2 separate regions of the Homo sapiens genome follow, and region 1 is linked to region 2. Evidence: fine-mapped QTL for protein levels in blood plasma. Region 2 holds a variant in brackets. A gene starts in the other region. All regions are shown on their forward strands.

Region 1 (2,890 bases), not on the chromosome of region 2:
AAGAACAGCTGAATGAAGGAAGGAAGGAAGGAATGATTGAATTGGTGAGCCAGTGGGGACAGGCTGGACCAAGAAGGCCACAACGAGAGCTGGGGAGATGGAGACCCTGCATATGCCTGGCCTATGCGGTGGCCTCCTCTGCGGTCCCCCAAGGCTTCCCCCGTCCCCTGATCACCTTGTCCAGCAGCAGGAAGATAGGCACGATGATGAAGAGGATGATCAGCAGCGTCTGGATCATGATGATACCATCCTTCAGCGTGTTCCTCTGCTTCAGCTGTGCCAAGGTGCTGAATCCTGCGGGGACAGGGGTGGGGTTGTGAGCCTGGGCCACAGTCCACCTTTTAGGCCTACAAGGGCAGCTCCCTCAGGTCCCAGTGGCTCTCCTGAGTGCTCTAGGGCCATGACCATCACCACAAGAGGCAGGCCGGGCTAGGGTGGGGCGGACAGCTACAGGAGCGTCCCAGCCACCTGGCACACACCCATGACTCGCAGCTCTGTGCCGCAGCCCTGGTAGACCTCCGAGGTGTTGTTGCACTTCTGCTGACAGAAGTAGATGCCATTGTCCTCAAACCGGATGCCTTGGATGGTGAGGGTGGCGAGAGATTCGTTCTGGGACTCTTCCATGCGGCCCTTTTCCAGCTTCAGCTGCTGGGGATTCTCGTCCATCTCCTGCTTCCAGAGCCAGCTCACATTGCCGGAGGCGCTGTTCATGTAGCAGTGCATTTTCACCGTGAAGCCCCGTTTCCTGGCTATGAAACGTGGGCTCTGCCAGATCCGCGAACAAGCACTACCTGTGGGTGCCAAGGCCAGGCTCAGCATTCCGCTTGGCATCTTCCTGAGTGCCAGCCCCAGCAGCAGGCCCCTGCCCTGGCTGGCACAGACTCCCTGGGCTTAGTCCTTGCTTCTCAGGGTGTGGGACAGGCAGGAGGCTGAGGTTGGAGTTGGGAAGCAGAGCCACGTGAGAGGCTGAGCCACATGAGAAGCCACGGCCAAGCTCTCAGACTCCACCTCTTCCCGACTGCCCCACCTCCCCTTCGATTTTCCTTTGGAAGAGCCCTGGGACCTTGCCATTCCTTCCTATGCCCATTACAACAGCCTGACCCAGGCCACACCCCCAGGACCTGGAGGCCCACAGGCCTGGCCCCTCCTTTCACTGGGCTGCCCTGCACAGGCTTGAAATCCTCAGTCTCCCCCGTTCCTCCAGGGATAAAGGCCAAATTCCTAGTCTGTCAACTGAGACCTTCCTCAGTCGACCCCCTCCCTGCATGACTTCCCTCTATCATCCCCCTCTTCCCTCCTGCAGGGACTGGGTCCACTTCTTGTTCCAGAACCCTCTTTCCAGCTTCGACTGCCTTGTTCTTAGTGAGCACTGCCCGGGAATCCCTGAGCCCCTCACATAGTGACCCTGCACTGGAGGGCTCACCCGAGACTCAGCCAGATTCCCAGCTAGACAGGCCCGGGCCTGAGTCCTAGAGGAACCCCCAGGCTCCCTTGCTATGACCCAGAGTTTAGCCCAGCCCTTCAGTGGCCAAGGCTGGAGGGCATGTGTCTGATGAGGATGACAGTGGGCTGGGGGTGGGGCTCAGAGGAGATCCTAAGGAGGCCTGGGGATGGGAATCCTGGATGGGGAGATCAGGCAAGGGTGGGAAGGCGGACCGCCCCCAGGACAGGGACCATAGTCGGACACAGGACATAGTCGCACACAACTTGCCCTCAGAAGCGGCAGGCGAGGCTACTGACCTTTGGGATTCCGGTACCGGTCCTCCGATCTGGCTGCTGGTACTGGCTCAGCTGCTGGGTGGGAGGAAGTGGGCGGGGCCAGTCAGGGCCTCCTCTGGCCTGGGCTGCCCCACCCCTGCATGCCCTCTATGTTCCCGGAGCTACTTCCTCCTTCCATGACAGCAGCTTCAAGACCCCTCGGTCCTCCCTGCCCCCAGTACTTGGGAGACAGATATGGGGTGGGGGTACCGGAAGCCCTGCCCCCAGCCCCCTTTCTGCCTTTGACCCTCATGGTGGCTTTGAGCAGGCATCTGAATGAGACAGGAGGGACAGGGAAATCTCAGTATTTTGAGAGGCCAAGACAGGAGGATCGCTTGGGTCCAGGAGTTTGAGACCAGCCTGGGCAACATAGGGACACCCTGTCTCTCTTTTTTTTTTTTTTTTTAAAGAGAGACAGGAAGAAAGTCACAGCCCGGAGGATCTTTCACCTCCCAGAGGAGGGGACCACATTTGGATCTTGCATCTTCCAGGGTCCGGTTGGGACAGCCTCTCCCCTCCCGACCCCCAGGCACCGCCCTCAGCCTCTCTTCCTCCTGAGCCTAGTTCTTCCACGGTCCTGGTTGCTAACTCTGGTTTGCTCCTCATGCCCAGCTCAGCCTGATGCTCTCCAGGCAGGAGAGGAACTGGGGCCACAGGCTCCTGAGCCCATCACCACGTGCAGCTGACACCCACAGACCCAGGCCCCAGGGCCATGAGAGGGAGACAGGCGGTAAAGAGTGAGAGACAGAGGAGGAGGGTGGAGCAAGCAGGAGGCAGAGCCGCAGGGCCCAGACAGCTGGAGATGAGAGCAAACCCCACAGGCCTCGTCGTGGGTTCTGTACCTGAGAGCAGCAGCAGCAACGCCACCATCCAGTGGCTGGGCACAGGAGACAACGCCAGCCTGGCCATGGTCACCGCTCTGTCCCCGACCCCAAACCCGTGACAACGTCCGAGGCTCCTTGGAGGAAAACGTGTAACTGCACCGGCTGCAGCCTGTCCCCTCCCCGCCTCTTCCTCACCAGGCCCCTTCCTGCCATGCAAATTGGGACCCAGGGGAGGCACCAGCTCTCCGGGGACCCTGGGGGAGGGCAGGCTTTTGTCAGCTGGGCCGCTAAGGTTTGGCGGTCGCCCA
Region 2 (2,909 bases):
TCCAACTCTGCCAGCATTCTTTGTTGAAAGACTATCCTTTCCCCATTAAATTGCCTTAGCAATTTTGTTGAAAATCAACTGACCACATAGGGGGTTATTTCAGTTCTATTCTGTTGATCTTTATGCCTATTCTTACACCAATAGCACACTGTCACGATTACTATAACTTTATAACACATTTTGAAATTAAGTAGTATAATTCCTCCAACTTTATTCTTCTTTTTCAAAACTGTTTTGGCCATTCTAGTTCTTTTATTCTAGATTATAGGGACCAGCTTGTGAAGTGTGTACCCCAAAAAAGCCTGCTGAAATTTTGAGGGATTGTGTATTGAATGTATAGGTTAATTTAAGAAGGAGTGTCATTTGAACAATATTGAGGCTTCCATTCTATGAATGTGAAATGTCAATTTATCTCAGCCCCATTAAGTATTTTTCAGTGTACAAGCCTTACACTTCTTTTATTAATTTGATTCTAATATTCCTAAGTATTTTATTCTTTCGATGCTACCTGGAATGAAATTGTTTTCTCAATTTTATTTTCAGACTGCTAATTTGTGGTGTAGAGAAATATGTTTTTCAAAAAATTTTGTATCCTGAGACTGTGCTAAACTTATTAATTTTAGTAGTTTTATCTGTGTGCGTGTGTATGTATGTGTGTATTTTCCTTAAGATTTTCTACATATCAGGTGATCTGTGAATAGAGTTTCACTTTTTCCTATTCAATTTGATGCCTTTTATTTCGTTTCCTTTATTACACTAGCTGAAACCTCCAGTACAACATAAGTGATGACAGCAGACGTTCTTTTCTTGTTTCTAATCTCAGGGGAAAAGCTTTTGGTGGTTTATGTTAACTATGATATTGACTGTAGGTTTTTTTTTTTATAGATGCCCTTTATTATTACTAGATTGAGGGAGTTCCCTTCCATTCCTACTTCCCGGAGAGCTTTTATCATAAATATGTGTTGGATTTAGAACAGTGCTTTTCTACATCTATGGAGATGATGGTCTGAATGTTTGTGTTGCTCCAAAATTCTTATGTTCAAATTCTAATCTCCAAGGTGATGTTATTAGGATGTGGAGCCTTTGGGAAGGAATTAGGTCATGAGGACAAAACTCTCATGAATGAGATCGTGCCCTTATAAGAGACCCCAGAGAGCTAGTTCTCCTTTCCACCATGTAAGGACACAGCAAGAGGGTGCTGTCTATGAGGAAGCAGGCACTCATCAATCTGCCCATGATGCTTTGTCAACTTTCCAGCCTCCAGAACTGAGACATAAATTTCTGTTGCTTACAAGCCACTCGATTTATGGAACTTTTGTTATAGCAGCTCAAACAGACTAAGACAGATGACCATGTGGTTTTTGTCCTCTAGCTTATTAATATGGTGTTTTATATTAATTTTTTGCTAAGAGGGTCTTGCTATGTGGCCTAGTCTGGAGTGCAGTGGCTATTCAAAGATGCAATCATAGCCCACTAGACCCTCAGACTCTTGGGCTCACGTGATCCTCCTGCTTCAGCGTCCTGAGTAGCTGGACCTACAGGTGCATACCACAGTGCCAGATATAAACTTTTTTTTATTTTTCAAGAGATGGGGTCTCCCTTTGTGACTTAGGCTGGACTGCA[G/A]TGGCACAATCACAGCTCGCTATTCCTTGAACTACTGAGCTCAAGTGATCCCCCCGCCTCAGCCTCCTGAGTAGCTGGGACTACAGGTGTGTGCCACTGTGCCTGCCTTATTTAATTTGTTGTATAGATAGGATCTCACCATCTTGCCCAAGCTGGTCTCAAATTTCTGGGCTCAAGCACTTTCTTACCTTGGCCTCCCAAAGTGCTGGGATTACGGGTGTGAGCCACTGCACCTGGCCTTTTTTGATGGAAAGCCAAACTTGCATTCATGGTATATGATCTATCCTTCATACATATTGCCATATTTGGTTTGCTAATACTTCATTGGGAATTTTTGTACATTCACAAGGGATGCTGATCTTGTAATGTCTTTGTCTGAATTTGTTATCAGGGTAATAACATCCTCACAGAGTAAGTGGAGAACTGTTCTATTTTCAGAAAGTTTGTGTATGATGGTATAATTTCTTCCTTAAATATTTGATGGATTGACATCAGTGAATCCATCTAGACCTGGGCTTCTCTTTGTGGGAAGATTTTCTTTGTGGAAAGTATTAAATTTCCGTACTTGTTACATGTCTGTTATGGGTTGAACTGTGTCATCCAAAAAGATGTGTTGAAGCCCTAACCCCCAGTACCTTAGAATACGTTATTTCAAAAGAGGGTCATTGCAGATGTAATTCATTAAGATGAGGTCACACTGGAGTAGGCTGGGCACTTCAGCCTCTAGGAGACAGGCACGTGAGGGAACAGCACATGTGGAGATGCAGGCAGAGACTGAAGTGCTGCAGTTGTAAAACCAAGGAGCACCAAGAAAGGCCAAGGATTGCTGAAAACACCAGCAGTGGGAAAGAGACAAGAATTCTCTCTTCCAGGTTTCAGAGGGAGCAGAGCCCTGCCAACACTTTGATCGAGCTTCATGTCTCTAGAACATGAGATAATAAATTTCTGTTGTCTTAAGCCACCTAGTTTATAATACTTTTTTTTTTTTTTACAACCACCATAGAAAATAAAGTCTTTTTGGATTTTCTATTGAGCCAGTTTTGGCAATTTGTGTCTGTCTAGGAATTTGTCCAATTCATCTGCATTGTCTAATTTATTGGCACAACGTTATTTACAGTCTCTTACAATCCTTTTAATTTGGGTTGGTAGTGATGTACCTGTTTTGATTCCTAATTTTGGTCTTTTTAATTTTTTGGCCAGTTTAATGTTGGCTCATTAATTTTACTGGTTTTTTTTTTTTTCTAAAAAACAAACTTTTGATTTTCATTTTCTCTATTTTTGTTACT

Direction of the effects. Alleles are on the strand shown, and positions count from the first base shown. The strength of an association depends on the size of the effect and on how common the allele is.
As copies of A replace G in region 2, the plasma level of the protein whose gene starts at base 2,737 in region 1 goes down (weak association).

Evidence for each region. PIP is the posterior inclusion probability: the model's chance that the variant is causal. Protein levels are from antibody-based Olink assays in UK Biobank. Linkage for the fine-mapping came from a reference panel and not from the study's own genotypes, which makes the PIPs less certain.
Region 1: CD79B starts here. The variant in region 2 is fine-mapped to the plasma level of the CD79B protein (UK Biobank, PIP above 0.99).

Annotation. Positions count from the first base shown.
Region 1 is chr17:63,929,595-63,932,484 of GRCh38, forward strand. It overlaps CD79B (CD79b molecule), which reads right to left and starts at 2,737. Exons shown (of 6, transcript NM_000626.4): 1 at 2,601-2,737; 2 at 1,741-1,791; 3 at 480-791; 4 at 176-294. The coding sequence starts at 2,667. RefSeq lists a silencer at 1,587-1,656 and enhancers at 2,354-2,743, 2,717-2,890.
Region 2 is chr2:226,829,107-226,832,015 of GRCh38, forward strand. It overlaps a transcript of RHBDD1 not described here. Among named protein-coding and RNA genes, the nearest start is that of RHBDD1, 5.5 kb to the right of the region's middle. The variant G/A (reference allele first, on the strand shown) is at 1,624.